7 linked regions of the Homo sapiens genome follow. The protein of the gene in region 1 purifies or fractionates together with the protein of each later gene. This does not show direct contact. Each region holds a gene or a part of one and is shown on either strand. Other genes may lie near its edges. The genes, in order: ACTR2, NDUFA10, ARL1, CEP85L, UPF2, TPD52L2 and TRAPPC8.

Evidence for each region.
Region 2: the proteins of ACTR2 (region 1) and NDUFA10 purify together in Homo sapiens (affinity purification with mass spectrometry; one large-scale study listed by BioGRID and IntAct). This does not show direct contact.
Region 3: the proteins of ACTR2 (region 1) and ARL1 purify together in Homo sapiens (affinity purification with mass spectrometry; one large-scale study listed by BioGRID and IntAct). This does not show direct contact.
Region 4: the proteins of ACTR2 (region 1) and CEP85L purify together in Homo sapiens (affinity purification with mass spectrometry; one large-scale study listed by BioGRID and IntAct). This does not show direct contact.
Region 5: the proteins of ACTR2 (region 1) and UPF2 purify together in Homo sapiens (affinity purification with mass spectrometry; one large-scale study listed by BioGRID and IntAct). This does not show direct contact.
Region 6: the proteins of ACTR2 (region 1) and TPD52L2 fractionate together in Homo sapiens (co-fractionation; one large-scale study listed by BioGRID). This does not show direct contact.
Region 7: the proteins of ACTR2 (region 1) and TRAPPC8 purify together in Homo sapiens (affinity purification with mass spectrometry; one large-scale study listed by BioGRID and IntAct). This does not show direct contact.

What each region holds. Positions count from the first base shown.
Region 1 is NC_000002.12:65,254,815-65,259,345, forward strand, and holds part of ACTR2 (actin-related protein 2), read left to right. Parts: intron 1-730; coding exon 731-880; intron 881-4,531. UniProt on the Homo sapiens protein: ATP-binding component of the Arp2/3 complex, a multiprotein complex that mediates actin polymerization upon stimulation by nucleation-promoting factor (NPF).
Region 2 is NC_000002.12:240,011,837-240,016,367, reverse strand, and holds part of NDUFA10 (NADH dehydrogenase [ubiquinone] 1 alpha subcomplex subunit 10, mitochondrial isoform 1 precursor), read left to right. Parts: intron 1-1,507; coding exon 1,508-1,629; exon of another isoform or gene 1,630-4,531. UniProt on the Homo sapiens protein: Accessory subunit of the mitochondrial membrane respiratory chain NADH dehydrogenase (Complex I), that is believed not to be involved in catalysis. Complex I functions in the transfer of electrons from NADH to the respiratory chain.
Region 3 is NC_000012.12:101,397,323-101,401,853, reverse strand, and holds part of ARL1 (ADP-ribosylation factor-like protein 1), read left to right. Parts: intron 1-680; coding exon 681-792; intron 793-4,531. UniProt on the Homo sapiens protein: GTP-binding protein that recruits several effectors, such as golgins, arfaptins and Arf-GEFs to the trans-Golgi network, and modulates their functions at the Golgi complex.
Region 4 is NC_000006.12:118,648,792-118,652,726, forward strand, and holds the start of CEP85L (centrosomal protein of 85 kDa-like), read right to left. Parts: upstream 2,801-3,935; 5' UTR 2,479-2,800; coding exon 2,406-2,478; intron 1-2,405. UniProt on the Homo sapiens protein: Plays an essential role in neuronal cell migration.
Region 5 is NC_000010.11:11,924,310-11,927,809, reverse strand, and holds part of UPF2 (regulator of nonsense transcripts 2), read left to right. Parts: intron 1-3,500. UniProt on the Homo sapiens protein: Involved in nonsense-mediated decay (NMD) of mRNAs containing premature stop codons by associating with the nuclear exon junction complex (EJC).
Region 6 is NC_000020.11:63,878,532-63,883,062, forward strand, and holds part of TPD52L2 (tumor protein D54), read left to right. Parts: intron 1-4,187; coding exon 4,188-4,289; intron 4,290-4,531.
Region 7 is NC_000018.10:31,908,168-31,912,698, reverse strand, and holds part of TRAPPC8 (trafficking protein particle complex subunit 8), read left to right. Parts: intron 1-2,938; coding exon 2,939-3,032; intron 3,033-3,054; exon of another isoform or gene 3,055-3,115; coding exon of another isoform or gene 3,116-3,155; intron 3,156-3,685; coding exon of another isoform or gene 3,686-3,688; coding exon 3,689-3,945; intron 3,946-4,280; coding exon 4,281-4,396; intron 4,397-4,531. UniProt on the Homo sapiens protein: Plays a role in endoplasmic reticulum to Golgi apparatus trafficking at a very early stage. Maintains together with TBC1D14 the cycling pool of ATG9 required for initiation of autophagy. Involved in collagen secretion.

The sequences.
Region 1 (4,531 bases):
TCCTCCTCATGAGGGGAGATTAAATTAATGAGAATTATAATACTCTCATTTTAGGCCAAAATTCAAAGCGTAACTAACAGAATTTCTGGGGTTGTCTTTAGAACACAGACTCAAATATTAGAGGATTTTTTTTTTATTTGTAAAGTCTAGTAATTTTTTTTCTCTCAGTGGGTTTTTAAAAAAATAGTAGTATTTTCTAGCATTTAAGAAATGTAACAATGGAGATTATACCTTTGAGTATCCCAATAATTCCCTTATCATTCGTTAAACAAATGCTATTGTCCTTCTAATATGTGCCAGACACAGTACTAGAAGCTAAAGATAAAACTTTTAAAGACTTGGGGGCATTTCATAAATATGGCATTAATTGTGTGAGCAAACTGCAGGCTACAGGAGTCCAGTACTAAAATAATATTTATTCATTAATATACTTTTGATTGTTTATCAAAACTATCAAAACATTAGTACTCATGCAGTGCTTTTCAAAAACTGACTTTTCTAGTCATTTTACTGACTTACTTATGAATTGTTAATTCTTTTACCCTCTCTGAAACTGAAATATAAATCCTTTTATGGCGGATAAAATCCTGCTTCTGAAATAGTAGGAGCTGAGGATCCACTGCCCATTCTGTTTGTTATTGATGTGACATATTTAATGAGCATTACTAGCTTTTGCAGAGTAGAACTCATTCAGATGTATTATGAACTTATTGCTATTGTTTTGTACCAGCTACTTCTGTTGCGAGGATACGCCTTCAACCACTCTGCTGATTTTGAAACGGTTCGCATGATTAAAGAAAAACTGTGTTACGTGGGATATAATATTGAGCAAGAGCAGAAACTGGCCTTAGAAACCACAGTATTAGTTGAATCTTATACAGTAAGTGTTTCCAGTGTATAATATATATGTGTTTTAAAGTGGACAGCCATGATTATTGGTGTCAGCTTAAGGAGGTTTTCTTAGAATCAGTATTTTTGTCTTGGGTTGTTGTAATATGTATATGTGTGACTTTTAATGTCTCTTTCTACATTAAGTTTCTATTTAATTATTTTAGGGCACCATATAATGCAAATTAAGGCAAGAATCATAAATTACTCTCTATACTAGGATATAATTAGATGCGAGATGTTATTTTGAGATTCTAGTATTTGGCATAGCATTTCTCAATGTATGTTTTACAGAACTTTATTTCCCTGAGATGCTAATAAGCATTTCACAAAAATTAAAAAGGATTACATTGTCAGATGAGTTTGAGAAAGAGTTGATTTCACTTCACTGTAGAACTCAGAGCCTTTGGTATGCTAATATGGGCACAATTAATATAGTATGCGTGTTTTTCAGACTTATGCTCTAGGACTTTTCAGAATTTCATGGGATTAGTGATCTAAGAAACATACTTTGGAAATGGTCATTCTAGAGCATTGCTTTACTAATTCAGTAGGTGGCAGCCTTTCCTGACTTAATATTCTTTAATGAGGTGTTAAATGTTAACTTGAAATTGTAACTAATGAGATTTAGTACCTGGTTATAGTTTATAACACCAGAGGAGTTGATCCTACTTGAATTTTTAATGAATTACCATCTTAAGCCTATTAAATTTGTCTGAGTATAAAGTACTTCCAGGTCTCATCTTTGATCTAGTTATTACTAAAATGAAACAGTAATAGGCAATGAAGGCAAGTATTTTAAAACCATATGATGCATACTAGCTCTACATATTCACAAATATATGCAAAATAGTCATTTTTAAAGTAATTATAAAAAATTTGTTGTTGGCCGGGCGCGGTGGCTCACGCCTGTAATCCCAGCACTTTGGGAGGCCGAGGCAGGCGGATCACCTGAAGTCAGGAGTTGGAGAACAGCCTGGCCAACATGGTGAAACCCGTCTTTACTGAAAATACAAAAAATTAGCTGGGCAAGGTGGTGGGCACCTGTAGTCCCAGCTATTCAGGAGGCTGAGGCAGGAGAATTGCTTCAACCCAGGAGGCAGAGGTTGCAGTGAGCTGAGATCGTGCCACTGCACTCCAGCCTGGGTGACAGAGCAAGACTCCATGTCGGTAAAAAAAAAAAAAAAAAAAAAGTTAAGATAGTGATCCAAATATTCAGTAAACCCCCATTTAAAATTTTTTTAAATTTATTTTTTATTATACTTTAAGTTCTGGGATACATGTGCAGAAAATGCAGGTTTGTTACATAGGTACACATGTGCCATGGTGGTTTGCTGCACCCATCAACCTGTCATCTGCATTAGATATTTCTCCTAATGCTATACCTCCCTCCCCTTGCCGCCCCCCACCCAACAGGCCCCATGTGTGTTGTTCCCCTCCCTGTGCCCATATGTTCTCATTGTCAGCTCCCACTTATGAATGAGAACATTTGGTGTTTGGTTTTCTGTTCCTGTGTTAATTTGCTGAGAATGATGGTTTCCAGCTTCACCCATGCCCCTGTAAAGGACATGAACTCATTCATTTTTTTATGGCTGCATAGTATTCCATGGTGTATATGTGCCACATTTTCTTTATCCAGTCTAACGTTGATGGGCATTTGGGTTGGTTCCAAGTCTTTGCTATTGTGAATAGTGCTGCAGTAAACATATGTGTGCATGTGTCTTTATAGTAGCATGATTTATAATCCTTTGGGTATATACCCAGTAATGGGATCGCTGGGTCAAATGGTATTTCTAGTTCTAGATCCTTGAGGAATCACCACATTGTCTTCCACAATGGTTGAACTAATTTACACTCCCACCAACAGTGTAAAAGCGTTCCTATTTCTCCATATCCTCTCCAGCATCTGTTGTTTCCTGACTTTTTAAGGATCGCCATTCTAACTGGCATGAGATTTTGTGGTTTTGATTTGTATTTCTCTAATGACCAGCGATGATGAGCTTTTTTTCTTATGTTTATTGGCCACATAAATGTCTTCTTTTGAAAAGTGTCTGTTCGTATCCTTTGCCCACTTTTTCATGGGGTTATTTGTCTTTTTCTGGTAAATTTGTTTAAGTTCCTTGTAGATTCTGGTTATTAAGGCTTTGTCAGATGGATAGATTGCAAAAATTTTTTCCCATTCTGTAGGTTGCCTGTTCACTCTGATGATAGTTTCTTTTGCTATGCAAGAAGCTCTTTAGTTTAATTAGAACCCATTTGTCAATTTTGGCTTTTGTTGCAATTGCTTTTGGTGTTTTAGTCATGAAGTCTTTGCCCATGCCTATGTCCTGAATGGTATTGGCTAGGTTTTCTTCTAGGAGTAAACCCATTTTGTAACTTAATCATCTCCAGATTTGCTCTGGAGATTCCTTCCTGAAGTCTTCTTGACAGTTTCTCTAGTTGTCTGATTTTCCATCTACCTGACTATTTTGGAAGAAAGTGGCTGGCACAGGGCAAAAGATAAGCAAACTAGGAATGTAAAACATGTTTTATTTCTTCCTTCTCTCTTTTCTCAAAGAATTTGAGGTAGGCTACAAAAATATATACAAATAGGCTGGGTGTAGTGGCTCACACCGGTAATCCCAGCACTTTGGGAGGCTGAGATACGAGGATCACTTGAGGCCAGGAGTTCATGGCCAGCCTGGGCAATATAATGAGACCCTGTCTCTACAAAAAAAATACAAAAATTTGCCAGGCGTAGTGGCACGTGCCTGTAGTCCTAGCTAGTTGAGAGGTTGAGGTGGGAAGATTGCTTGAGCCCAGGAGTTCAAGGCTCAAGTTTTGAGGCAGAGAGCTAGGATTGCACCACTGCACTCCAGCCTGGGTGAAGGAGCGAGACCCTGTCTCAAAAACAAAACAAAATCCATATATATATTTGATATATATATGCACACACACACATATACACAAGTATAAAGTAATAAGCTGATGAATAAGTGAGGAGGGACATGGGTGGACAAATACAGAACAGGATAAGATTTGGTGCAAAGAAATGGGATGCCTGCAGTTTTAACAGTTCATTAAGGTGATTAGAAAACTTGACCCCATGCTGGCCAGCAGCCAGAGAATGGAGAGAAGCCACACTATCAGGCTTCAAGTGCTTAAGGCAGGAGGTTTTGCTAATAAGATCTGCTGTGTGAAGTTTTTCCAGATATTTTGGGTGATTTCATGTGAACCCACCTGAAGGTGGAGGTGGTTTTTTTAAGGGTATAAGTTTTGGTAACCTTTTTTTTTTCTTTCTGTTTTGAGACAGGGTTTCCTCACTCTGTTGCTCAGGCTGCAGTGCAGTGGCATGATCTCGGCTCACTTCAGTCTCAATCTCCCAGGGTTAGGTGATCCTCCCACCTCAGCCTCCTAGGTAGCTGGGACCAAAGCTGGAATCTAAACAATCATTGTAATTGGCCAGGCGCGGTGGCTCTTCCCCATAATCCCAGCAATTTGGGAGGCCAAGATGGGAGGATCATTTGAGCCCAGGAGTTCAAGACCAGTCTGAGTAACAAAGCAAGACCCCCGTCTCTACAAAAAATAAAATTAGCCAGCCATAGTAGTGTGCATCTGTAGTGCCAGCTACTTGGGAGGCTGAGGTGGGAGAATCCCTTGAATC
Region 2 (4,531 bases), about 170 Mb from region 1:
GAGCAGACTCGGTGAAGGGAGGTTTCACCTCAGCAGCAGGAGAGACCGGCCTGCTACCGGTCCAGCAGTCAGGAAGCAGACCCGAGGTCCCGTGTGCTCTGCCTGGCTGCGGGTTTGTGTTTGTATGCTCAGGTGAACGGTACTCCACTGGCAGCCTCCGTCCTTTGCTTTGTCACACCTCCTCCTGGGTGGTCTTCCTTGTTCTTTAGCTCGTGCCGTTCCTGACCCTGAGCCAAAGGCTCATCCCACAGTTGCCTCTAGAGTGAGGTTACTAGGAATGCTCACTGGAACTTTTTTTTTTAATTTAATTTTTAAAATTTTTATTTATTTATTTTGAGACTAGGTTAGGAGACTGGCTAATGTTTGTATTTTTGGTAGACATGGGATTTCACCATGCTGCTCAGGCTGGTCCTGAACTCCTGGGCTCCAGTGATCTGCGCCCACCTCGGCCTCCCAAAGTGCCAGGATGACAGGCGTGAGCCACTGTGCCCAGCCCATTTCCTTTAAAGCAAAATAGTTGTCTTTCTGTGGACCCTAGCATGGCCATCTGTCACTTCTGGAAGGTTCCACACGTGAAAAGCTGCAGAGGGGATGGCTTCTCAGCATGGCCTCTCCACATGCACTGGCGTGCACTCTCTGTTGGCTTCTGGGAGGTCGGGTGTGCATGAGCATGTGCAGGTGCAGAGTGCTCTGAAGAGCGGCAGGGTTCCCTTGGGTGGCACGGGCCCTGCGGGTGCCCCCTGGATTATGCATTCTGTGTAGTGATCACTTTAGGAGAATTATTCCTCAGCCTTAGCTGCTTTCAATTTCATGTTGTCACTAAATCTGACTCAGTAGATACTTCTGTGCAGCTGATTATACTACTGAAACGGGATAAATGCAGCTTGATGATTTTCAGCTGAGTTATTTGAAAAATAAAGTATTTAAAGCTGTTCTTTATTCTTCAGAGAAGACCAGACTCTTGTATCTATTATTACTGTGAAGAAATATAGTAGCATGTATACTATATACCTGCAACATATATACTGCAAGTATATGGAATATATTTCAGTTCAAAGATCACTGAACTGTGACCTCCATCTTGCGTGACCTACGTCTTGCCTCAGGAGCAAAAGTGAACCCTTAAATGTGGCTAAGATGTGCTAAAGATCTGTCTTTTAGGATGATTAAGGTCACAGTTTAAATGCTGCTGTTTTACTCTGTGTAAGTAGCTTAATTTCTCTGGGCCTCAGACCTTTGGTTTGTAAATACAGTGGAGGCGACAAGCCCTGTTTTCAGGGTTGTGGGCACCACAGCTGCTGTCTGCACATGCCCCGTGGCACCTGGAGCACAGTCACATGCCATGTGTGTGGTCAGTGCTTAGAACTGTGACCGAGATAGGGTTTGTAGATTGGTACGTGGCTTTGAGAATTGCGTGTATGTTTGCCCTTTTATTCAAGGAGGAGTGTGTTTTGGAAACCCGTGTGGGGACTGGTAGGTGACAGCGCCCCTTTCTCCTATGTGCCAGGTGTGGACCACTACAACGAGGTGAAGAGCGTCACCATCTGCGATTACCTGCCCCCCCACCTGGTGATTTACATCGATGTGCCCGTTCCAGAGGTCCAGAGGCGGATTCAGAAGAAAGGAGATGTAATGCAGTTTTCAATCAAAGGCCAAGCATCTCTATTTTGAATGTAGATCAGCACTAAAAGCCCTGTTTTAATAGCATTTATACTAATTCCTACCAGTCCTCACGAGGAGGGTGACACACACCCTGTTCCCACTTGAGAGAGGGCATCTGCAGGGGTGGAGGGGAGACCCCATGGCTCGGCCTGGTGCCACAGCCTGCGGGCCTGCCGCCCACCAGTGCTCTGCGGTCCCACTGTGGTCCCCGAGTCCCCTCAGCTGTTTAAACTTGGGAGGCTGGTGAGGGCCTCCTGGCAGAGCGTCCTCCATCCCTCTGTCACGTACCTTTCTGTTCTCTGATGAGGTTTTTGTGTCCTATCGTTTTCTTCCACATTGGAAGCAATTTCTAATATCCCTCATCACTTCAATCTATTTAACGCAAATCGTGCCTCTCCCCCTTTTTCTTACTTACCAATTCTAGAACAGTAGAGCAGTGATATCCACACACATCCATTTACTCTTTGTAGTTTTCATTGGATCTTAATTAGGTGGCCTCGAAGCAACGCCTTTTGAAGTGACCCTGTGGCCGTTGGTAGCTCTGTTGGCGGCTTGATGGAGGATCCTGAGATGAAACAAAGACCGTCTTTGCCCTGTGGCGAGTTCTTTGTTTTTTTTTTTTGAGACAGAGTCTCGCTCTGTCACCCAGGCTGGAGTGCAGTGGCACGATCTCGGCTCACTGCAAGCTCCGCCTCCCGGGTTCACGCCATTCTCCTGCCTCAGCCTCCCAAGTAGCTGGGACTACAGGCGCACGCCACCATGCCCGGCTAATTTTTTTGTATTTTTAGTAGAGACGGGGTTTCACTGCTTGTTTAATACTATGTTATTTTTTCCTGGAGGAGAATATGGTCTCCTTTTTGATACTGTGATGAAAATGCAGGGCTACCTGCCTGTTCCTCACTCTGATGCCCATCCTCAGTGCCGGAATTCTTGTAGGTGCTCAGGAAATACCTCTCTGGATGGTGGGTTCTTGTCAGGGCAACAGTAAAGCTCTGGTTATTTTTTGCTGCTCCTGAAAGATCCATGGGACTAACTTTCCTTCTCTGTTGCAATAGTAGAAACAGCGAGATGTCTATGTATGCCTTTCTATTGCCACTCTGGAACTTTTATTGTTTAAGCATATGCTTGTAAGTATGTTGTATAGCTAGACTTCTAAGAACCTTCCATCAAGTGGCAAAAGGAGGGAACTGCAAGTTCAAAATGTTTGTTTCTCAGTGGACTAACTGGACACCTTTGCTTATTATGCTGACATTTATTGAGAAAAACAAAGTCATACATTTAACATTCTCTAGATAATTCTTTTGTTATCTGGGAAAACAGTATTTCAAAAATAATTCTGAGGTCTAAAGTAGAGCTGTCAACTTCTTAATTTTTCCAAGTAAAGTCTTCAATACTGTCATCAGGTAAAATTACCCCATTTTATAAAAGACATCACATTATCAGTAAGTCTGTGTTCTTATTTTGATTTTTATTTCAATGCAGTCTGTGTCTCAGTATTGCACCTTTTGGGAATAACTGATAGGAATATCCGAAAACCATTTCTAGATTCTAAGAAAACAGTCAAAGTGATCAATAACTACATATTTTATCAAGTAACTTCAGGTCAGATTTCTGAGATGGTTGTGTTATGTTGCATGTTATGGGCTTATATTACACTAGAGTTTCTTTTATAATCAGTTAACATTTAATCTTATTCTACTTGGCACATAGCTAATGATAGAGATTTAGAATCATATCACCTCTTTTATACTTTTGTTGATTTCACTCACTCCTCTAATACAGAGCACCTCCTATATGCAAGGCGCCTGTGCCAGGCACCTAGGAGGCTGCAAAGATGAACAAAGATGGTCTCTGCCCAGACACCAAGTCCTTATTGGAAAATAGAACTCCCAATTACTGCCTTTCCCCCTTTTGACAGAGCAATGAAGTGCAGCATTGCCTGTATCATCCTTTCCCTGTGCCCCGTCGCATTACTGGAATTAATACATGTTCAGTAAATATTCTTTGAATGATAGGGTTTTTCTTATTTTGAACAGCTTTAATGAGGTATAATTTATGCTCCATAAAATTCACCCATTTTAAGGGTACGACTGAATGATTTTGGGTAAATTTACCAAGTTGTTGCCACTCTTGCCATAATCCAGTTTTAGAATGTTTTCATCATTTTGTAGGTTGAAACCGCAGGCCTATTCATTTCTTTCTTCCTTCCTCTCTCTCCTGTAAGTGTTGATTGAGCATCCACCCTGTCCTAGACCCTGCTTGGTGCTAGGGACATACCAGTGAGCAGGGTGGATGAGGTCCTCACCCGTGAGCTCATATGCTGATGGGGGAGACCTACAGCAAGCAAGGAGATAAATAAATACATCAAATAGAGGTAAATGATGTGAAGAAAACAAAACGGGCTGAGAAGATAGTGTGAGACTGTAAGGAGTTTTAAATTTTAAAACTTGCTACTCATAATTAGATATTCAAGTTTCTGAAATTCGCATAGTGCATTTCAGATGATGAGAGAGGTGACAGCCGTAGAAAGTGGGAGAAGTGGTTGCGGGGAGATGGGTGAGCGATGGAGGTGGCGAGCAAGTTGGAGAGATGCAGGGAGAGTCAGGTGACAAGAAGAGAGTGTGCTGAGGACAGATGGCGGACAGACAGGCCGCTGCCCCCAATTTTTGGTGCTCTTTCATTCCTGCACTCAGGCACGAGGCAGACAGGAAAGACAGGCAGTGCTGCTTCGTAACAGGCATCTTTCTTGCCCTAAGTATACATCTTAGAATGTGTGGAGAAAGTCACGCTATGGGAGCACTTGGGCAGGCTCAGGTGTTCACTGTAGTAGAAGGAGAATGACTCTAGCTGATGTTGGGACCCTTTGCTG
Region 3 (4,531 bases), on another chromosome or scaffold:
AAGTTTATTCCTCTTAAGGGGTGCCTAGTTAAAGATTTGTTTAAGAAGATGTAATGATCAGGTCTGTGTACAACTTTTCTATCAGTATATTTAGTGATTTCATAGATTATAAATAAATTTTGTCAGCCTGAAGTCTGAATGAATTCATTTGGAAACTCCCTGGTCCTGTGAGTCAATGTTTATCAACATTCTTTTTTTTTTTTTTTTTTTTTTTTTTGAGACAGAGTTTCACTCTTGTTGCCCAGGCTGGAGTGCAATGGCACCATCTCAGCTCACTGGAACCTCTGCCTTCCTGGTTGAAGTGATTTTCCTGCCTCAGCCTCCCGAGTAGCTGGGATTACAGGCACCTGCCACCATGTCCAGCTAATTTTGTATTTTTAGTAGAGATGGGGTTTCTCCATGTTGGTCAGGCTGGTCTCGAACTCCCGACCTCAGTTGATCTGCCCTCCTCAGCCTCCTAAAATGCTGGGATTACAGATGTGAGCCACCGTGCCCAGCCAATGTTTATCAACATTCTTTTGACTCCATCACATCTGAGGGATATGGTACATATATCCACCAGAAACAGTGAATCATTAAGGCATTGATTCTAACATGTGTGGGACAGAATTGGCAATTGATATGTCAGTTTCTTCCTTAAAACAATAACAATATGTTCTCCCCTTTTAAATTTTCTCTAGGCCATACTGGAGATGTTACTATTCAAACACAGATGCAGTCATTTATGTAGTAGACAGTTGTGACCGAGACCGAATTGGCATTTCCAAATCAGAGTTAGTTGCCATGTTGGAGGTAAGAAAACGTAACCACTTTAAAATGTGGGGCAGTCATTTACATATTATTACATTGAAGAATAATTAAAAAGAATGCAGGGGTTGTTCCCTCCATCCTTTTAAAATTATTTTCTTTTATGGAAATGATTTTCTATTCCAAAAATACAGTTGAGGAGGGTTGGAGACAAAACAACAACAAAAATTAACCTCGTAACTTCCTCTTCAAGCCAGATTGCTTGATTTTCCAGGAGGTTCAGAAGAGCTCACTTAAACAAAAGCATCTATTCTAAGTCACTTCTTTGATGTGACTTTTAAAATATGTCTTTTTATTTTTAGCTGTTTTAGAAGGATTCAAGTTCAGAGAAATATGTATTTCTGGGTTACTGGCACAATGCTGGCCTCACGTTTATCGTTTTTTATCCTTCCCAGTGTTTACAGTGCTTTTGACCTTCTTTCTGTTCTTTGGACACGAGCTTGCACACCTGGCTCAGGGCCTTTTGCACTTGCTGATCCGTCTGCTTGGAATACTATTCTCCAGCATCTTTGCATGGCTGCCTTCCTGACGTGTTTCTTCCCACATCTCTTCCCCAGAAAGAAGTCTTATTTATTCTCTAATCCTTTACCCTTCTTTATTCTTTATACCGATATTGTTTCTTTTTTTTCTTTTTCTTTTTCTTTTTTTTTTCTTTTTTTTTGTAGAGACGGGGTCTACCTATGGTGCCCAGGCTGGTCCCAAACTCCTGTCCTCAAGTGATCCTCCTGCCTCGGCCTCCTAGTGTTGGGATTACAGGTGTGAGCCATTGCACCCCACTTACTGTTTTTTTACATTATTTTTAAATGTATTTGTTGGCTGGGCGTGGTGGCTCACGCCTGTAATCCCAGCACTTTGGGAGGCCGAGGCGGGCAGGTCACCAGAGATCATCAGGAGTTTGAGACCAGCCTGTCCAACATGGTGAAACCTCATCTCTACTGAAAATACAAGAAAATTAACCGGGCATGGTGGTGTGTGCCTGTAGTCCCAGCTACTTGGGAGGCTAAGGCAGGAGAGTCACTTGAACCCAGGAGGCAGAGGTTGCAGTGAGCCGAGATCGTGCCCCTGCACTACAGCCTGGGTGACAAGAGTGAGACTCTGTCTCAAAAAATAAAAATTAAAAAAAAATATATTTGTTTACTTATGTATCTCTCCCTCTAAAATGTAAGTTCTTTGAGTTTACCCTGATAGGAGGAACAATGTATAGTACTTAATTAAGAATTCAATACATCTTATTCACTGAAGTTAATAAGATCATATATTGGCTAACTGATCAAATTCAGAGGATGCATTAAATAATCCATTTTTAAAAAATGAAAAAATAATCAAATGTACTATGATAATAATAAAATTGCCCTTGCTCTGGAAAATTAGATGGATAAGTTTCTTTCTCTTGTCAAAAACTGGATTCTGAATTGTTTAATCAAGGGATGTTTAAATATAAGTTCTAGGCCAGTTGATACCTAGGTAAAAGCATCCTCAGACGAGGGGACTATGTACTTTTGAATTCTTTTTTTTTTTTTTTTTTTTTTTTTTTTTTAGACAGAGTCTTGCTCTGTCGCCCAGGCTGGAGTGAGTGGCGTGATCTCCACTCACTACAATTTTCGCCTCCTGGGTTCAAGCGATTCTTCTGTTTCAGCCTTCTGAGTAGCTGGGACTATAGGCTTCTGCCACCACACCCGGCTTATTTTTGTATTTGTAGCAGAGATGGGGTTTCACCATGTTGGCCAGGCTGGTCTCGAACTCCTGACCTCAGCAGTTTGCCCGCCTCCTGATCTGCCAGCCTTGGCCTCCCAAAGTACTGGGATTACAGGCATGAGCCACCGCGCTCAGCCCAGGACTTTTGATTTCTTGAACTACTGACTTAATGGCTTCCAAGTTATAAATTGCAGACTTAATAGTTTTAAACATTTGGTTAATTTTTTTTTTTTTACATCATAGCATTATATTTATTATAAGAGCTTCTTAGACCAAATTTAAATGTAAGGATAAGGTTTAATTGCCTTGGGTATAATAGGTTTTTTAAAGAACAGTTTTATTTAGGTATAATTCACATGATATAGTGTATTTTTATCATATAAAGTATTGCTTAAAAGGAATGGATTATTGACTTCAGTTTACAATTTTTGAGTTGTGCAGGATTGTTGTTACTTGCAGTGTTAGGATTTGACTTATAAAGTCTTACAGAGAAAGAAGTAAAAGTTGGATTCTTTCTTTAGGAAGTCACTTTTAATTCATCAATAAATATCATGTTATGTTAAGTATGGGCCAAGTACGAGTCAGGACTGTTAATGTTAAAACATATAGACACAGGCCAGGTGTGGTGGCTCACGCCTGTAATCCCAGCACTTTGGGAGGCCGAGGCAGGTGGATCACTTCAGGTCAGGAGTTTGAGACCAGCCTGGCCACCCATATCTACTAAAAATACAAAAATGAGCCGGGTGTAGTAGCGCACGCCTGTAATCCCAGCTACACGGGAGGCTGAGGCAGGAGAGTCACTTGAACCCAGGAGGCGGAGGTTGCAGTGAGCTGAGATAGTGCCACTGCACTCCAACCTGAGTGATGGAGTGAGACTCCATCTCAAAACAAACAAACAAAAAATATATAGTATAGACACAAAAGCAGTTTAGGTTTCAACTTTTTTTTTTTTTTTGAGACGGAGTTTCACTATTGTTGCCCAGGCTGGAGTGCAGTGGTGCAATCTCGGCTCACTGCAGCCTCCACCTGCCAGGTTCAAGCAATTCTCCTGCCTCAGCCTCCTGAGTAGCTGGGATTGCAAGCGCACACCACCACACCCGGCTAATTTTTGTAATTTTAGTAGAGACGGGGTTTCACCATGTTGGTCAGGCTGGTCTTGAACTCCTGACCTGGTGATCCACCCACCTCAGCCTCCCAAAGTGCTGGGATTACAGATGTGAGCCACCGTGCCTGGCCTTTCAACTTTCCTATACACAAAAATGAATTCTAAATGGGTAAATAATTAAATGTAAAAAATGAAAATTATAAGAACATATAAGGAATTCAAAAGATGAGATTTAATTATATTAATGTAAACAAAACTCCCCCAAAGCTCAGATATGGCAAATATAAACAAGATTAAGATAAGAAACCAGGCCTAACCAGAAGCCAATGACTAAGGATTAGTGATCTGAATCATAGCAAGATCTTTTGCAAAATGAGCAAAAGGCAATTCGTAGGGGAAAAACATTGCTAATAACATTTGCATTTGTTTTTAAAGAGACAGGGTCAGCAGGGCGCGGTGGCTTATGCCTGTAATCCCAGCACTTTGGGAGGCCGAGGCGGGTGGATCATGAGGTCAGGAGTTCGAGACCAGTCTGAGTGACCAACATGGTGAAACCTCATCTCTACTAAAAATACAAAAATTAGCTGGGCGTGGCAGCGGGCACCTGTAGTCCCAGCTACTCAGGAGGCTGAGGCAGGAGAATCACTTGAACCCAGGATGCAGAGGCTGCAGTGAGCCAAGATTGCACGACTGCAACTTCAGCCTGAGCAACAGAGCGAGACACTGTCTTAAAAAAAGAAAAAAAAAAAAGAGACAGGGTCTCCCTCTGTCCCCTAGGCTGGAGTGCAGTGGCACAACCAAAGCTTGTTATAACCTTGAGCTCCTCTCTCTGCTTCCTTTTTTGTTTGTTTTTTAAAAAAATTTTTGTAGAGACCCCTGTGTTGCTCAGGCTGGTCTCCAACTCCTGGACTTAAGCGATCCTCC
Region 4 (3,935 bases), on another chromosome or scaffold:
TTTAGTCTAGTTATATATTTGTATAAACAAATAAACCAGTTTCAGGACAGCTTGAATTAATCCACATATTAAGATAAACTCATTTTAATACCAGAAATTATTTACTTATCCCTGCCTTCACACTTTGTTTTCAGACAAGTCCAATTTTAGGGCTGGAATAATTGCTCAAATTATTCAAAAGATATACTGAACAATATTTCAAAAATAAAAATTTCCTTCCAATTATCAGGAAAAAAGGTCCCTACATGAATCAACTCAGAGGTCATTATCTTGACCTTCACCATCTGCTCACTTGCACAAGAAGCAACACAAGTTTTTCATCTAAGGTAGAACTTTTTAAAACTTAAAATTATCTAAGATAATTTTAAATATTTATATTTGCTCAAAAAGGGAAGAAACACAATAAATAATTACATTACTATTTCAGCATGTAACTGAAAAAAAACTTTACAAAGGCATGTCCTGACTTGTCAATAGTTTATTACTGACAAATTGAGATAAAATACATACTTTGGTACAGCTATACTGTCCAAATTTCTTCAATTAGGGTAGTAATTACAAAGTATCCTCTTCCACTATTATTCTATGCCATAGCAAATGTCTCTCTAGAGGCTGCAACATAACAAAGTCCTTCGTTACCTAACTTTAAATACTAAAATGTTCTCTTCTTCCTAGAAAACAATGAAAAATAGACACCATGCCTCAGTGATATACCTCCAAACAAGCTGCTATTATCACGAATAAATTTTAATAGGTTAGATTGCAAAGACATTACAGATGGCTTTTGACATTTTCAGATAAACTGAAACCACTCCCTCCAGCCCCTAGGGATAATGAAGTAGCTTCTCAATCACTGAAGTTACTTAGATGACAGGATTTGTGAATAATCTGTAAACTCGGGAAACCTCTGAACTGTCTCCTTAGGACAAATAACATACAATTTAGAAAAAAAAAATCCCTACTTAATACTGCTTTTTACTAAATTCATGCCTACATTAAATTTCAGGATCAAACTTAAGTGAATGATTCAAATCATTCATTAACATACATTAAGTGTTTCAGGACCAAACTTAAGTGAATGATTCAAATCTAACTCTGGCTTTTTAAAATGTACATATGTCTTTTTAAAAACCACACATCACAAATATCTAAACTATCAAAGAATTGCATTATTCGAAATTTCAATAGCCTGATACTAGTGACTCGGTCAGTGCCTGATTTTTTTTAAATAGCAGAAAATATTACCATCAAAAGACCCCTTTCCAAATGCTGCTTCTGCTTTTTTGTTTTGTAAATAACAGCTTTGGAAATGTATGCAAAAATATCTCTAAGTTACACAAGTCGAGCTCAAACACTTTGTGGAGCAAGGTTACTTAACAGGAGTCCCAGAAACAGCTAAAATTGTAGGGAAAATTTTGCGTATGTATATATGGCATTGTTTTTTCTGCGCAGAATGTCCATATAACTCAGTTTCTCAAAAGGCCTCAAAACTCAAGATTAAAAGTGCCTGGAAAGACCATCATCTTTAGAGAACATATCACAGGCAACCCAAGACTTATTTTTTATCCCAAGTTAGGGGAGGATTTATCCTAATTTTGTGGCTCCTACACAACTTCTGAGCGACGCAAGCATGAAATGGCTGTCCGATACAAACAGACCCCTTCAGATACGGAATGCAGCAAACCCCTAATTTTCCTTGAAGGGGCCACGGAAAGCCAAACGGATTCGTAACCCGGTTGCTCAATGGTCCATTGGCTACTGCAGGACGCGCCCTCCTCTTACGCCGCAGGGGCTGCGGGGCGGCGACCAGGTTCCTCCGAGGGGCTGAAGTTCCCTTGGGGGTGGCTGAGAGCGGCCGCATCTCTGGCAGCATCCTCCCTCCCGAAAACGCGCCCTAAAAGTAGCGGCTGCGGGCGTGGGCACAGCCAACCCCAGCCTGCGCCTACCAGAAGTCGGGAGGGCGCGGAACTGCGGCCCCTCCGAGACGCGCCCGGGCCGCCGCCGCAGCACTGTCGCAGCGACCTTCCCGCCCGGGTCCCCGCGAGCAAACGGGCAAGCCCCGTTATCACGCAGGTCACACACCCCACGAGTAAAAGGAAAAAACCGGGCAGACAATAAAGCCCAACCCGCGGGGGCCCAAGCGAGCTGGAAGTTGGGGGCGCTGGGGCTGCAGCCCAAGGAGGAGCGGCGGGGACGACGGGATGCGGGGCTGATGCGCCTGGGACGCGGCAAGCCATATGTCAGCCCGGGTGCTGACAGCGGGGAGGACACTGGGCACGCGGCGGCGTCGGGGAGGCGGCCGGGGTAAGACAGGCCTGAGGCGGGAGGGGAGCGGCGGCGAGGTCCCGAGGCGCCGCGGTCGGCCGTGACCCCCACCCCAGCCGGGGCGCTGTCCCGTTCCTTACCGGCAGGGAAGCTGCGGGCTCCGCCGGGGCTATCCCGGCCGCTGGCCTCCGGAGCCAGGAAGCGCCCCCACATCGCGGGCGAGAGGGCCGGGTGGGCCAGGGACGCCCGACTCCTCACGTCCGTCCTCCTGCTTCTTCGGCGGCGGAAACTTGCGCGGAGCGTGGGCCTCGGCGACACGGGCAGGAGGAAAGGCGGGATGGCTGGTTAACGGCTGCTCAGCTACGGGCGGGGAGCGCAGGGGCCAGATTCGCCGCACTGCCGGCGCCTGCCATGGCCAAGCCGGCTGGGCTGAGGCCCGCGCCGGGGAAGCGGCGACTCGGCGGTGACGGCTGCTAGATCCCCGGCTGAGCCCAGGCTCAAAGGCTCCAGGCGAAGTTGCAGCTGCGGGTTCTCTCCGCCCCCTCCGCCGGCAGAGCCAGAGCCGGGGCTGGGGCCGCGAGGGGGCGGGGCCTCGGGCAATGACTTCAGGCGTGCGCGGCGCCGCGCGGGGCGGGGACTGCGGGGGGCGGGGACTGCGGGGGGCGGGTGAGCTACCCCGACCCCGCTTCGCCTCCTTGGCGGCGACTGGGCTGTCCCGCCCTCCCGCCGCATCCCTCTGTCTCCATCCTCCCGCCCTGCGAGTTGAGTAGAGGGCAGCGACTTGGCCTATTTTGCGATACTCGCCCCTCCCTTGGGTAATCCCTCACGCCCTCCCTCCGGGCACCTCTGTGAAGACACGTGGAAGACCTGCCCCTGGCGTCACAACCGCTCGAGATGAAAAAGCCAAGCCAGGGCGCGGCTGAGGGGGCTTCCAGCCTCCCTTGGAATTAGGATTGGGATTTAAATCCTCATCTGTATTCCTTCGTTTATAGATTACTTTAGGGGCAGAAAAGGGGTGGTTTTCCTTTACTAATTTAATGGGGGCGTGGGGGCAACACAGGCACCAGAATATAGCACCGGGATGTGCACCGGAAAAGGCCCGGGGGTAATTAGTACCCGAGGGGGAGAGGGGCCGTCATTGTAATCGCACAACGTTTCAGATTAGCAAGCAGAAAGTAAAAATGGCACCAAAGTCTGTAAAGGGAGCCCTTTCCTCCTTGCCCCCTACTCCTTCACGTTCTTCCTCTTCTTGGCCAGTTTCCACCCTTCACCTGAACCCTTAGTGCAGGAGGAGACGTCCTAAGGAAGGGCGAAAAGGGACAGCATCGTTTTATTTTTAAATCTTACTTCTCACTGGCAATATGGTGATGCTTCCAACGTTTAGTTACGAACTAGTTCGTATAAAAAATTCTGGGCCAGCACTGTGGTGGGAGGCGGGCTCTGCAGTAGGCCCATCACTCAGAGGTAAGTCGGAACGCAGGTCGCTTAACTAGAGAGGCTTTGAGTTCCGCTTTTCCTGTTCTGGAATCTTGCTAACAAAGGCCTCATATTTGCATTTTTCCCTTAAAGACATTTTAATTGGGAAATACTACTTAAAATTCTTGGAAGTTAAATTAGATTTAGGTGTGTGTTCTATCACTTACCACATCCGTGTTGTAATTTATCTGATT
Region 5 (3,500 bases), on another chromosome or scaffold:
CTCAGATAACTCTAATCAAATTGTAATGTAGAAAACTGGCTTGTCAAGACAGTTTAGAGATCTGTTCTTTAGCATCTGTTGAGTATAATTTAAAAAAAAAATCCAAGTTGGAAATGACCTGTAAACCCATCTAATTAGGCACAATAAGATATTAGGTTATTTTTAATTATCCAAACTTTATTAAAGTCCTTTAATTAAGCCTGTTTTATTGCTGCTAAAATGTGGACACTAGCTAGGTTAACAGGCAATGAAAAATGTTCATTTCCTGCTTTTGCATTTTCTTAGAGTAGCTTTAAATATATGCCACAGTGTTCTTGATAACATCTATTCCCTCCTGTCTCATCATCAGAGACCAAAACTGTTAGAATATTTGTATTTCGGTTGGTAAAAAGTAATGCGGTTTTTGCCAATAAAAGTAATGGGAAAAACTGCAATTACTTTTGCACCAGCATAATATCTTGATGTTTTCCATCATCTTCACCTGTTCATATTGCAGCCTAACGTCTCTGAATAGCACGTTTTTATTAATCCCTAACCCCCTCACAATTCATGTATCGCAAGTATAGTGTCTTAGTAATTTGTGTAGACTCACTATGGAGTTGGATGACATAAGGGGCATCCAGTAGGATTTGCCTCCCTCCGTGTACACTCATCCAGGACTGCACTGTGGAAGATGGAGTACAAGACAGGGTCTTTACCTGCACGGTTGTGGTCCAGTAGGGAAGCCGAGTATGGGTACTTGAAAGATAATTCCACCCTCTTCATTTGTCTGTTTCAAAAACCTTGGGTGAGAGTCTGTTAAGGACCAGGCAGGAGATATGTAAGCATGTGTGTGCTGTCATCGACGTGAGCATGTGTGTGCTGTCATCGACGTGCGTGTGAACAGAGGTAAGCCTTTCTTAACCTGGTTACCGGTGTTAGTCACTTTGCAGAGTTCCTTCACTTTCTATTTTCCCTTCCTCCCTCCAATTCCTCCTTGGAAGAATCGGCTACACTTGCCCCTTCTTCCTTGCTCCCACTTGGGTGGCTTACCCCTGCCAAGTCACAGCTGGCAGTGGGAGGCATTGCCCACCCCAGTGGCTATGCTAGAAAAGAGGTTCATTATTGACTCCTGTCACCTTCTCAGTCCCTAGGTCTAGGCAGCTTCTGCCATCACTGGCATCCCCACCTGCCATCTCTTGGCCTCATCTCAGCAGCACTTTGCATTGTAGGCCCTCCTTGTTCTCCCAACAGACCCTTCCTTGGCATCTGTGATTCTGCTGGCTTCTGGGTTTTCCCTTCCCGCGATCACTGTGGCTCCTGCTGCTGACACTGCCTCCTTTCTGCGCTTCCCTGCCTAGGGATGTCTGTGTTCCTTGGGCTCAGCCTGGGCCCTCTTCTCCTTCTGCACTCTCAAAGGAGGTGTCATCCCTCCCAGTGGCCTGACTTCCATCCAGGTCTCCAGCCCAGATCTCACATTTTCATTTCTGACTTTCCACCCCACTGTGACTCAGAGATGGAAGACTCGTGCCCCTGCCCCAGACTCCTCTTCCCCAGGGTCTCCAGTGCAGGGAGAGGAAGCGTTGTCTGCCCTCTTGTCCACAAAAGAAAAGGAAGTTGTGTTATTGACAGCTCCTCCTCCCTCAATCCCTAAATGTAGTTCATTAGCAAATCCTCTGCATTCTGCTCCCAAATGGCCCTCACTCTTGCCTTTTCTATTCTCTGCCCATAGCCAAGACCATGGGTCAAGCCACCATCACCTCTTGCCTGGATTGCTGTTGCTGCCTCAGCCTCCTCATCAGCCTCTCCGTCTCAACCTTCAACCCTTTCCAATTCATTCTCCCGCTATAGACCCAGTGTTCTTTCTAAAACACAAATTTGATATCTGTGTGTGCCCTTCTGCTTAAAATCATCCAATGGCTCCTCGTGGCTTGTAGGATAAAAAGTCTAAACTCCTCAACTTGGTTCCCAAGGCCCTGTGGTGCAGGTGGACATACATTACTGGCTTCATCTCCTGCTGTTCTTTCTCCTGCTGCAGCCTAGCTGACCTTTAGTTCTGTGTTCTTTTTGCCTCCTCTGTGTGGAACAGTCTCCAGCTGTTCCCCTGGAGAACTCCTGCTCCTTCGGGTCCTGCCTTGGTGTTCCTGAGTCTGACATAGGTCAGTGCGGATCTGCTGCCATGACTTATGGTATTTCTGCAGACCTTGTCCTCCTTAAGTGCCGCTTAGCTTGTCTCTATTCCCCATGAGATTACAGGCGATGAGGGCTGGGACCAAGTCTCATGTTGTTTCCATTCTGTCTCCTTCACAGCTCTTGGTGCCTGGCACCTAGTAGGTGCTCAGTAAATATTTGGTGAATGGACAAAAGAACTTTTCACAGTCTGTGTTCAGTCACTGAATAAACGTTCTCATTCCAGTTCTGCTCCCTAGCTCTTCCCTCTGTTTTTCTTTTTTGTAAGAGTCCTAGCTTTTGAGCTAGCCACTCAACCTGTTTTAAGATCTTTTCTTAAAATAGCACCTTAAAAAAAGAAAACCTAACTTGTCCATCAGTCTTAAGAATAGCACTCTGTAAAGTATCACGAATGGAATTTTTATAGTCAATGCTCCTAAAGTATAGGTGCGATAAACATGGTAGATGAACAAACATGGAAACATGAGATTTTACCCTTTAGAGGACCAGATGTTCTTTGCCTTTTTTAAAATTTACATTTTAAGGCTGGTTGTGATGGCTCATACCTGTATCCCAGCACTTTGGGGGGCCGAGGAAGGCAGATCACCTGAGGTCAGGAGTTCGAGACCAGCCTGACCAACATGGTGAAACCCCGTCTCTACTAAAATTAGAAAAATTAGCCGGTCATGGTGGCGGGCACCTATAATCCCAGCTACTCGGGAGTCTGAGGCAGGAGAATCACTCGAACCTGGGAGGTGAGGTTGCAGTGAGCCAAGATTGCGCCATTGCACTCCAGCCTGGGCAACAAGAGCGAAACTCTATTAAAAAAAATCAGTTATTAATATTAGTAATGTTATACAGCAGATAAAGGGAAATTTATTTGGAAACTGATTATAAAGTAGTTTAGGTCTAGGAGCAGTGGCTCACGCCTGTAATCTCAGCACTTTGGGAGGTCGAGGTGGAAGGATCGCTTGAGCCCAGGAGGCAGAGACTGCCAGATCACACCACTGCACTCCAGGTTGGGCGACAGAGCCAGACCCTGTCTCAAAAAAAAAAGTAGTTTAAAAAAAAGATTTTTTTTTTTGAGACGACATGTTGCTCTGTTACCCAGGCTGGAGTGCAGTGACACAATCTCAGTTCAGTGCACCCTCCACCTCCTGGGTTCAAGTGATTCTTCTGTTAGCCTCCCGAGTGGCTGGGATTACAGGTATGCAGTCCACCACTCTTGACTAATTTTTGTATTTTTAATAGAGACATGGTTTCGCCATGTTGGCCAGGCTGGTCTTGAACTCCTGACCTCAGGTGATCTGCCTGCCTGGACCTCCCAAAGTGCTGGGATTATAGGTGTCAGC
Region 6 (4,531 bases), on another chromosome or scaffold:
TCCCTGCCCCCACTGCTGCAGCCCAACAGTGTGGCCCCATATGGGTCTCCCTGGACTAATGGCTGCGGCCTTGGAGGTGGTGTGCTCTGGCCAGGCCTGGATCACTTGTCCATCCTGAGTGGGAGTGGGGGCAGCCCCCAGAGACAGACTCAGGAGAGGGGGAGTGCAAGGATGTCCCCCAGATGCCCTGTGCTGCCCAGGGGACAGCTCACTGGCAGTGGGACGAAACCGCTGTCTGTCCAGGGCTCTCTTCCTAGAAGGTCTTAGGAACTCCCAAATGGGTGCTGGCTGGGGTTGCCCGGCCCGGTGCTCTCAAGGAGAGCTGAAGCTAGTTATTGGGTGCAGATGCTGGCTCTGACCCCTGCCCCTTCCTCCCGGGCTCAGCTTCCCCATCTGTCATGGAGTAATAACAACCCAGCCTTCTGGTCCACTGAGGAATGTGTGTGCCTGTGTGTTTGACGCTCTCAGAACAGGCCTGCAGCGCTGTGAGCCTTGGAAGGGGGCCTCACAGCTGCTGCCGCCACCTTGGAGGCCCAGGATGGGACTGAGAAGGGGAAGGGAGAGGTCAGAGCCACAGCTGTTGGGCAGGGACCTGCTGTAGGAAGAGAAGGCCAGGGAGGCGCTGGTGGTGGCCTCAGGCTATGCAGGTGATGCCCATTGTTTCCAGGGCCATCCCAGTTTGGAGGTTCCTGTTTCTAGAGGAGGTTCCCTTGTGACCCCCTCATTTCCACACCCGAGCAATGCTGAGGGCTGTGGGGCCCCCAGGGGCTTGAGTGTGGTTTATGGCACAGCAGGGACTGATCACAGTGGCACCGGGTGTCAGTGGCCAGTGGTCAGTGGCCAGGAACCCTCAGGACCCTCCTCCTTGTGTGGGTGGCATTTACCCACCCACAGGTCACGCTCAGGACCCGCATCTCATTCCGATCCTCCTTGTGTGGGTGGTACTTACCCACCCACAGGTCACGCTCAGGACCCCACATCTCATTCTGAAGGCCGGGCACAGGCGGTTGTTTTCTCTCCAACTTCGGTTTCCCCATCCCCACTCTTAGGGCACAAATGCAGGTGTAGCTTCCCCATGCCCACTCTTTAGGCACAAATGCAGGTGTAGCTTCCCCATCCCCACTCTTAGGGCACAAATGCAGGTGCAGCTTCCCCATCCCCACTCTTAGGGCACAAATGCAGGTGCAGCTTCCCCATCCCCACTCTTTAGGCACAAATGCAGGTGCAGCTTTCCCATCCCCACTCTTAGGGCACAAATGCAGGTGCAGCTTTCCCATCCCCACTCTTAGGGCACAAATGCAGGTGCAGCTTCCCCATCCCCACTCTTAGGGCACAAATGCAGGTGCAGCTTCCCCATCCCCACTCTTAGGGCACAAATGCAGGTGCAGCTTCCCCATCCCCACTCTTTAGGCACAAATGCAGGTGCAGCTTCCCCATCCCCACTCTTTAGGCACAAATGCAGGTGCAGCTTCCCCATCCCCACTCTTAGGGCACAAATGCAGGTGCAGCTTCCCCATCCCCACTCTTTAGGCACAAATGCAGGTGCAGCTTCCCCATCCCCACTCTTTAGGCACAAATGCAGGTGCAGCTTTCCCATCCCCACTCTTAGGGCACAAATGCAGGTGCAGCTTCCCCATCCCCACTCTTTAGGCACAAATGCAGGTGCAGCTTCCCCATCCCCACTCTTAGGGCACAAATGCAGGTGCAGCTTCCCCATCCCCACTCTTAGGGCACAAATGCAGGTGCAGCTTCCCCATCCCCACTCTTTAGGCACAAATGCAGGTGCAGCTTCCCCATCCCCACTCTTAGGGCACAAATGCAGGTGCAGCTTCCCCATCCCCACTCTTTAGGCACAAATGCAGGTGCAGCTTCCCCATCCCCACTCTTAGGGCACAAATGCAGGTGCAGCTTCCCCATCCCCACTCTTTAGGCACAAATGCAGGTGCTGTGAGCGCTTTAGAATCCTCTGCTGCAGGTGACTTTGCTTCAGCGAACCACAGAATGTTCACATGGTTTTATGCATTTGTTATTTCAGGGAAAATCAAGGTTAAAGATGTCTTCAGAATTTGTATTTTTGGGCTGGGCACGGTGGCTCACACCTGTAATCCCAACACTTTTGGAGGCTGAGGCAGGCGGATCACGAGGTCAGGAGATCGAGACCATCCTGGCTAACACGGTGAAACTCCGTCTGTACCAAAAATACAAAAAAATTAGCCGGATGTGGTGGCGGGCGCCTGTAGTCCCAGCTACTCGGGAGGCTGAGGCAGGAGAATGGCGTGCACCCGTGAGGCAGAGCTTGCAGTGAGCCGAGATGGTGCTGCTGCACTCCAGCCTGGGCTACAGAGCAAGACTCTGTCTCAAAAAAAAAAAAAAAAGAATTTGTGTTTTTGAAACTAAATATAGCAGGTCATTAGTTACTTATAACTGGTGTTTTATTAATAAAAGAAGAAAAAATTTAAAAACAGCCATGATTCCAGCTGCACGGAGCCTGGATGGGAAAGTGCATCCTCTGGGCTGAGCACGGTGGCTCACACCTGTCATCCGAGCGGGCTGGGCGCAGTGGCTCACACCTGTCATCCCAGCACTGCGGGAGGCCGAGGCGGGTGGATCACCTGAGGTCAGGAGTTCAAGACCAGCCTGGCCAACATGGTGAAACGCTATCTGTACTAAAAAGACAAATTTAGCAGGGCGTGGTGGTGGGTGCCTGTAATCCCAGCTACTTGGGACGCTGAGGCAGGAGAATCTCTTGAACCCGGAGGCGGAGGTTGTAGTGAGCTGAAATTGCACCACTGCCCCCCAGCCTGAGTGACAGAGCGAGACTTTGTCTCAAAAAAAAAAAAAAGAAAGAAAGTGCATCCTCTGGTAGGCCTTGGGCCGGGGGCGGGCATGAGAGAGCTGCGCTGGGATGCGCTGCCAGGGCACACTTGGTGGGTCACACACTCTTGTCAACTGTTTGGGGGCTGGAGAGTAGTAGCACTCAGCTCACACGGGCCTTCTGCAGGGAGTGGTGGGAGGGCCTGTGAGTAAGGGCTCCGGAAGGCCCATCATTGGGACCTGGTGCCGCCAGTGGGAGCAGGAGGAGCCTGTGCCTTCTCTGGCGCCAGTCATCCCAGATGCCACTCAGGGCTTGGCTGGGTTTGCCAGCTCTCCAGGTTGGCACTGGTAACGCCAAGATGGTCCTGGGAGCCCATCTCCATTCAGCCTCGAGTTCCCTGGCTTCACTGAGGGAGGAGCCGTGATAAGGTGGCTGTGGGTTCGCATTTTGGACTTTGTTATGTCAGAGTCTGCTGTGTTTTGTGTTTATGGTGGCAGCTGGATGAGGGCCAGCGACTTCAGGTGTTGACTGTCATGGTGGGCCCAACAGTATCCCTGCAGCCACAGCATCCTGCCTGCTGCCCTTTGCCTGTCCTGCAGACGCCAAGGCCCTAGAGCTTTGCTTTGATGGGATGTACCCATGTGGGTGGACACTGGAGGGAGCTGGAGGGGATAGAAGCGGGGCCTTCACTAGGGGCCAGGACAGACCCTTGCACTGTGAAAAGAGGCCTGGGAATGGAACTGTCCGATGTTCTGAAGGCACACGGGGCCCCGCCGTCTGGAGCAGGGGCACCTTGCGGGCTGCATGGCCACTCTGTGACGCTCGTTCCCCACAGACGTGGTTGAGCTTGCATTTTCTCCCCTCAGCACAGTCTCATTTGGGAAGAGGAAAGGGAAACTTGCACGCATGGGCCGGTCAGGGCACTGAGAGGCCTTTCTGCTCTGGCACTGCCTGCCAGGCGTGCACCTCAGGGGGCCCGTCCGCTCTAGCAGGCAAATGGGGCGTGTTCTCTGTAGTCAGAGGGGCTGTGAGAAGACAGGAAAGCGAGCTTAGTGGGTATCAGGCAAGGGGGTGAAATTGGGTTGTGAGATGAGAAAGCAGCGTCATTGCAGGGCTGGGGGGCCGAGACTCGGCAGGGTCGCCGAGAGCTCAGTGAGCGAGCAATGCACAGGCGGCTCCTCGCCGCAGGGGCCTCTGGGGGCCGAGGGGCTCTGGGCCTGCACCCCCTCTGTAGACACCTGGCGAGTGTCCACCCCTTGGCCCAGCTCCTTTCCTCAGTTTTCCTCGGGCGTGCTCCCAGTGCTTTGTTTGCTTGGCTGTGGGTGGTGACCCGCCCATGCTGTCTGGTTGATTTAACTGGTGTGTCTTCCAGCTACAAGAAGACTCAGGAAACTCTTTCACAGGCAGGACAGAAGACTTCAGCTGCCCTGTCCACAGTGGGCTCTGCCATCAGCAGGAAGCTTGGAGACATGAGGTGAGACGCAACCCTGACTCTGCTGCCCTGAGACCTGGCCAGGAGTGAGGTGAGGTGTTGGAGGTGCTACAGGAAGCCTGCCTGGAGATCAGGGCTCAGATGCACTGGCTCAGGGATGTGGCCATCCATCATGGCCCCGACCAGTCTGTGTGCAGACCCTTGCCTGGGAGGTTCGTCCATCCCCGTTGGCTGCTTTTCTGCCGTTGCTGTGTTCTTCAGGGAGGGTTGGCTGCCAGTGCTGT
Region 7 (4,531 bases), on another chromosome or scaffold:
TTGCTCCCTACATTTTTCTTTTTCTTTTCTTTTTTTTTGAAACAGAGTGTTGCTCTGTCGCCAAGGCTGGAGTGCAGTGGCACAATCTCAGCTCACTGCAGCCTCCACCTCCTGGGTTCAAGCAATTCTCCTGTCTCAGCCTCCTGAGTAACTGGGATTACAGGCGTCCACCACCTACCACCATGCCCGGCTAATTTTTTTTTTGGAGACAAAGAGTCTCGCTCTGTTGCCCAGGCTGGGGTGCAATGGCGCGATCTTGGCTCACTGCAACCCTCCACTTCCCATGTTCAAGCAGTTCTCCTCTCTCAGCCTCCCAAGTAGGTGGGACTACAGGCGCACACCACCACGCCCAGCTAATTTTTGTATTTTTAGCAGAGAGAGGGTTTCACCATATTGGTCAGGCTGGTCTCGAACTCTTGACCTCAGGTGATCTGTCCGCCTCAGACTCCAAAAGTGCTAGGATTATAGGCATGAGCCATCATGCCCAGCCTCTTTCGTACCTTTTTAACATGCTTTTATAGCCACCTTCAGGAACTCATACTTTTTAGGTGGGTGGGCATTTCCCTCCAACTTTCCGTTGATTTCCCTTCTTTATGTACTCTCAGGAGTTACTGTTTTTTAATTACTCCTTTCTTAACCTCGAGTTCTAGAATAAGATTGATTGTCCTATTGGCTTAAGTTGATGGGCGTTTGATGTTTTGTCAGACTTCTAAGGTACAATAGTATGCCGCTTGGTAGTAGTCAAATGCCAAGTTCCTATGCTTAGTTCAGATAATCGAGAGTCACTGTTTTTTGTTTAGAAGAAAATTTTTTTTTTTTTTTTTTTTGAGACAGGATCTCGCTCTGTCGCCCAGGCCTTGGTCTCCCAAAGTGCTGGGATTACAGGTGTGAGCCATCATGCCGGCCTAGAAGAAATTCTTTTTTTTTTTTTTTTTTTTTTTTGAGACGGAGTCTTACTCTATCGCCCAGGCCGGAGTGCAGTGGCATGATCTCGGCTCACTGCATGATCTCGGCTCACTGCAACAGCTGCCTCCTGGATTCAAATTATTCTCATGCCTCAGCTTCCCGAGTAGCTGGGATTACAGGCGCCCGCCACCACGCCTGGCTAATTTTTGTATTTTTAGTAGAGATGGGGTTTCACCATGTTGTCCAGACTGGTCTCGAACTCCTGACCTCAAGTTATCCCCCTGCCTCAGCCTCCCAAAGTGCTGAGCCACCACACCCGGCCAGAAATTTTTTTTTTTTTTTGAGACGGAGTCTCACTCTGTTGCCCAGGCTGGAGTGAAGTGGCGAGATCTCGGCTCACTGCAACCTCCACCTCCTGGGTTCAAGCGATTCATTTTTAGTCGAGACAGGGTTTCACCCTGTTGGCTAGGCTGGTCTTGAACTCCTGACCTCAAGTGATCCACACGCCTCAGCCTCCCAGAGTGTTGATATTACAGGCGTAAGCCACAGCGCCTGGCCTAGAAATTCTTAAGTAAATGGAAAATATATTTATATTGTTCAATTAAACTATATTATGCACTCTGTGTGTGACATTTAAAAAATCAATTACAAAGCTTATGTAATTTTTGATCTTCTGATATAAGTATTGTTTAATCTGTTTATTTGCTTTATTTTTCTGTCTCATAAATGGAATCTTTAAATCTAAATGTAGTGCTATCATGGTATTTTACTGACTTTAGTATTGAGGTGATTACTGACGTTCTTTAAGATAATGCTGGGGAAAAGCAAAGAAGTACCAGTTGGATGTGAAGGAACTTTATTTTTAAAAATGGTCTTTTAGGGGCCATTCTAAGAATAAGAACAGTACTGAAAAAAATACACTTTAGAGTTCAGTCACCTAAGGTTGTGAAGGGGAACATGAAGAAGATTGTGCAGTATGAGAACTTTTAGCAGAAAGCAGAAATATCAGAAATCTATGCCTTAGCATCCTAGAAGCTCAAAGTTGGAGAATAGTTTAGAGGTTTTACATCCAATGCTTGATCTAATGCTTTAATTTCTTTAAACTTACGAATGACTGCGTCTGTTGACAGTACTCACTGTATTCTTATTAAGTGACCTATTGCATGTCTGATCACCCAAAAATTCTCTCATTTTGCTTAAGGATCAATAAAAAATTCTTGACCTTTGCTTGTACGCTTGATCCTTTGGGAGTGACTATGTTAGTTTTCCATTAAGACAACTTTCAAAATATAGAAGGATAATTCTCATGTCCTCTTTTATATTTTTCCAGTCTAAATATGCCTAGTTTCTGCAACTCTTTCTCAAGGAGTGGCTTCAGACTTTCTTGTCCTGGTCACTTTCTTCTTGAGTTCTAGTTTATGTAAATTCCCTCAAAGTGTGACACTCAGAATAATACATCATATTTACTGGTCTTGTAGAGTAGTCTGGGTATTTTTAGTTTAAGTGTTTTTTTGTTAACTGAGAAACCAGTTCCTTTGCACAAATAAACGTTGCGTTAGATATTTTTCTAAAACACTTCAGTATATTCAGAATTCACTCCAACCTGCTTACACTGTGACCCAAAGAATTTCATATCTGTGCCTCTCTTCTTTCCCCGTCTGACTCTAGTAGTCCATCTCTCTTGCCATTATTCCTTACTTAAGAGGCATAAGCATATGTATGTGCTTATATGAACACTCGTGTATATACATATCATATATAAGTAGATATCCTGAGAGATAATTTGAATTAAGAAGAATTAGGATAGTAGCTTGAGTGTGAAAGGGGATTTAAGAATATAGTAGGTGTGAGTTGGAGTGATAGAATAAGATCCATGGAAGAAGTTATGAATTTGGAGGACGAGAAAATGCTCACTGTAGCAAATAAATGAGGCCAACAGTTAGCAGAGTAACCATAGTTGTTGATGGATTTGATAGTATATTAAGTATGATTAAGTATAACTGCTAATGCTTTTTAAATTTTATTTTGATAGGAATCATATGAAGATGGCCCTTGTACTATAACTTCAAATAAGAATTCTGATAATAACTTGCTTTCATTGGATGGATTAGATAACGAAGTCAAAGGTCTTGATATATTTTCTCTAAGTTTCTCTTTTGATTGAAAATATGCACTGTTGTCAGATCATGCTAACCTTTATAGATAAAAGATGGGGGAAATTTTTCATAATACAGAAAGATATTGGGCAGGTTAGTTTTTCTTCTGAAGATTTTACTGAGCTACTTGAGTTTGTTTTTGACACTTAAAAATTTGTTTTATATGAGTAGTGTATAGATTTCTTTTAAAATATTTTGTAGAAAGCAAGGGAAGATGTGATGCACAGCATTAATTATTTAAAAATTTACATGATTTTGAGAGCTTTATTTCTGACTTTATGATTTTTGTAATGATAACAAATTTTTTTTGTTATATTTTTTCTTACGGCTTAGTTGTACTATTTAAAAGTCATTCTTTATATTATTTAAAATAAAGTATTTTTCTCCATTTCCTGGTTTATACCGATTTTCAAATTACTAATACAGGTACCAAAACAAATATTAACTCAAGCTCATTAATTTTGGGGCTGGGGGATGTTACTGCTGTTTTATCTTAGACATTTACCTATACTGAAAGATAAAGGATTTTAACATTCTGCTTTTTTTTTTTCTTTAGCAGTATGGTAGTATTAGCACTGTTTTCTGTTGCATTCTGAGAGTAAAAGAAATAATCTCTTTTTCAGTAGATGGCTTACCAAATAACTTTAGAGCTCACCCACTTCAGTTGGAGCAATCCAGTGACCCTTCTAACAGTATTGATGGCCCAGATCATCTAAGATCTGCTTCATCGTTACATGAAACAAAGAAAGGAAATACTGGAATAATTCATGGTGCATGTTTAACACTTACTGATCATGATAGAATTCGACAGTTTATACAAGAGTTCACATTTCGGGGCCTTTTGCCACATATAGAGAAAACAATTAGGCAATTAAACGATCAGGTAAGGTTTGATTTTTTGGATTAGTATTTTAAAAATTTAAGTAAATAGTAAATTTAAGAATTATTAAACGTATTTGAAGTTTTGTTTTATTTTCGTTTTAAGATAGGCCAATATTAAGACTTCCCAAAATTACTATCAATGATGAAATTCTGTTCAACTCTAGAAGAGGCTTATTCATTTTCAATAGGATTTTGCCAGCATATTGGACAGTTTTCTTTAAATCAGTTTTATTAAAATGAACATTTGCTATTAAAGCTTTTTAGTTAAAATTTTTTTATGTAAAGGAAAAATACTAAATTCTTTGTTTGTCAACATATTTAATCTCTTTTTTAAAGCTAATATCAAGAAAAGGTTTGAGTCGATCTCTATTTTCTGCAACTAAAAAATGGTTTAGTGGCAGTAAAGTTCCAGAAAAGAGCATTAATGACCTGAAAAATACATCTGGCTTGCTGTGAGTAAAGTGTTATCATTTTTGTTTTTCCTCTGTTTAACTCTCTGACTAGTGTTTGATTGTATATCCTGCAGAAGATAACTATCTCTTTAATTTCTTAGTTTCTTATTGGTGAAAATTCAGGTGGATAAGAAG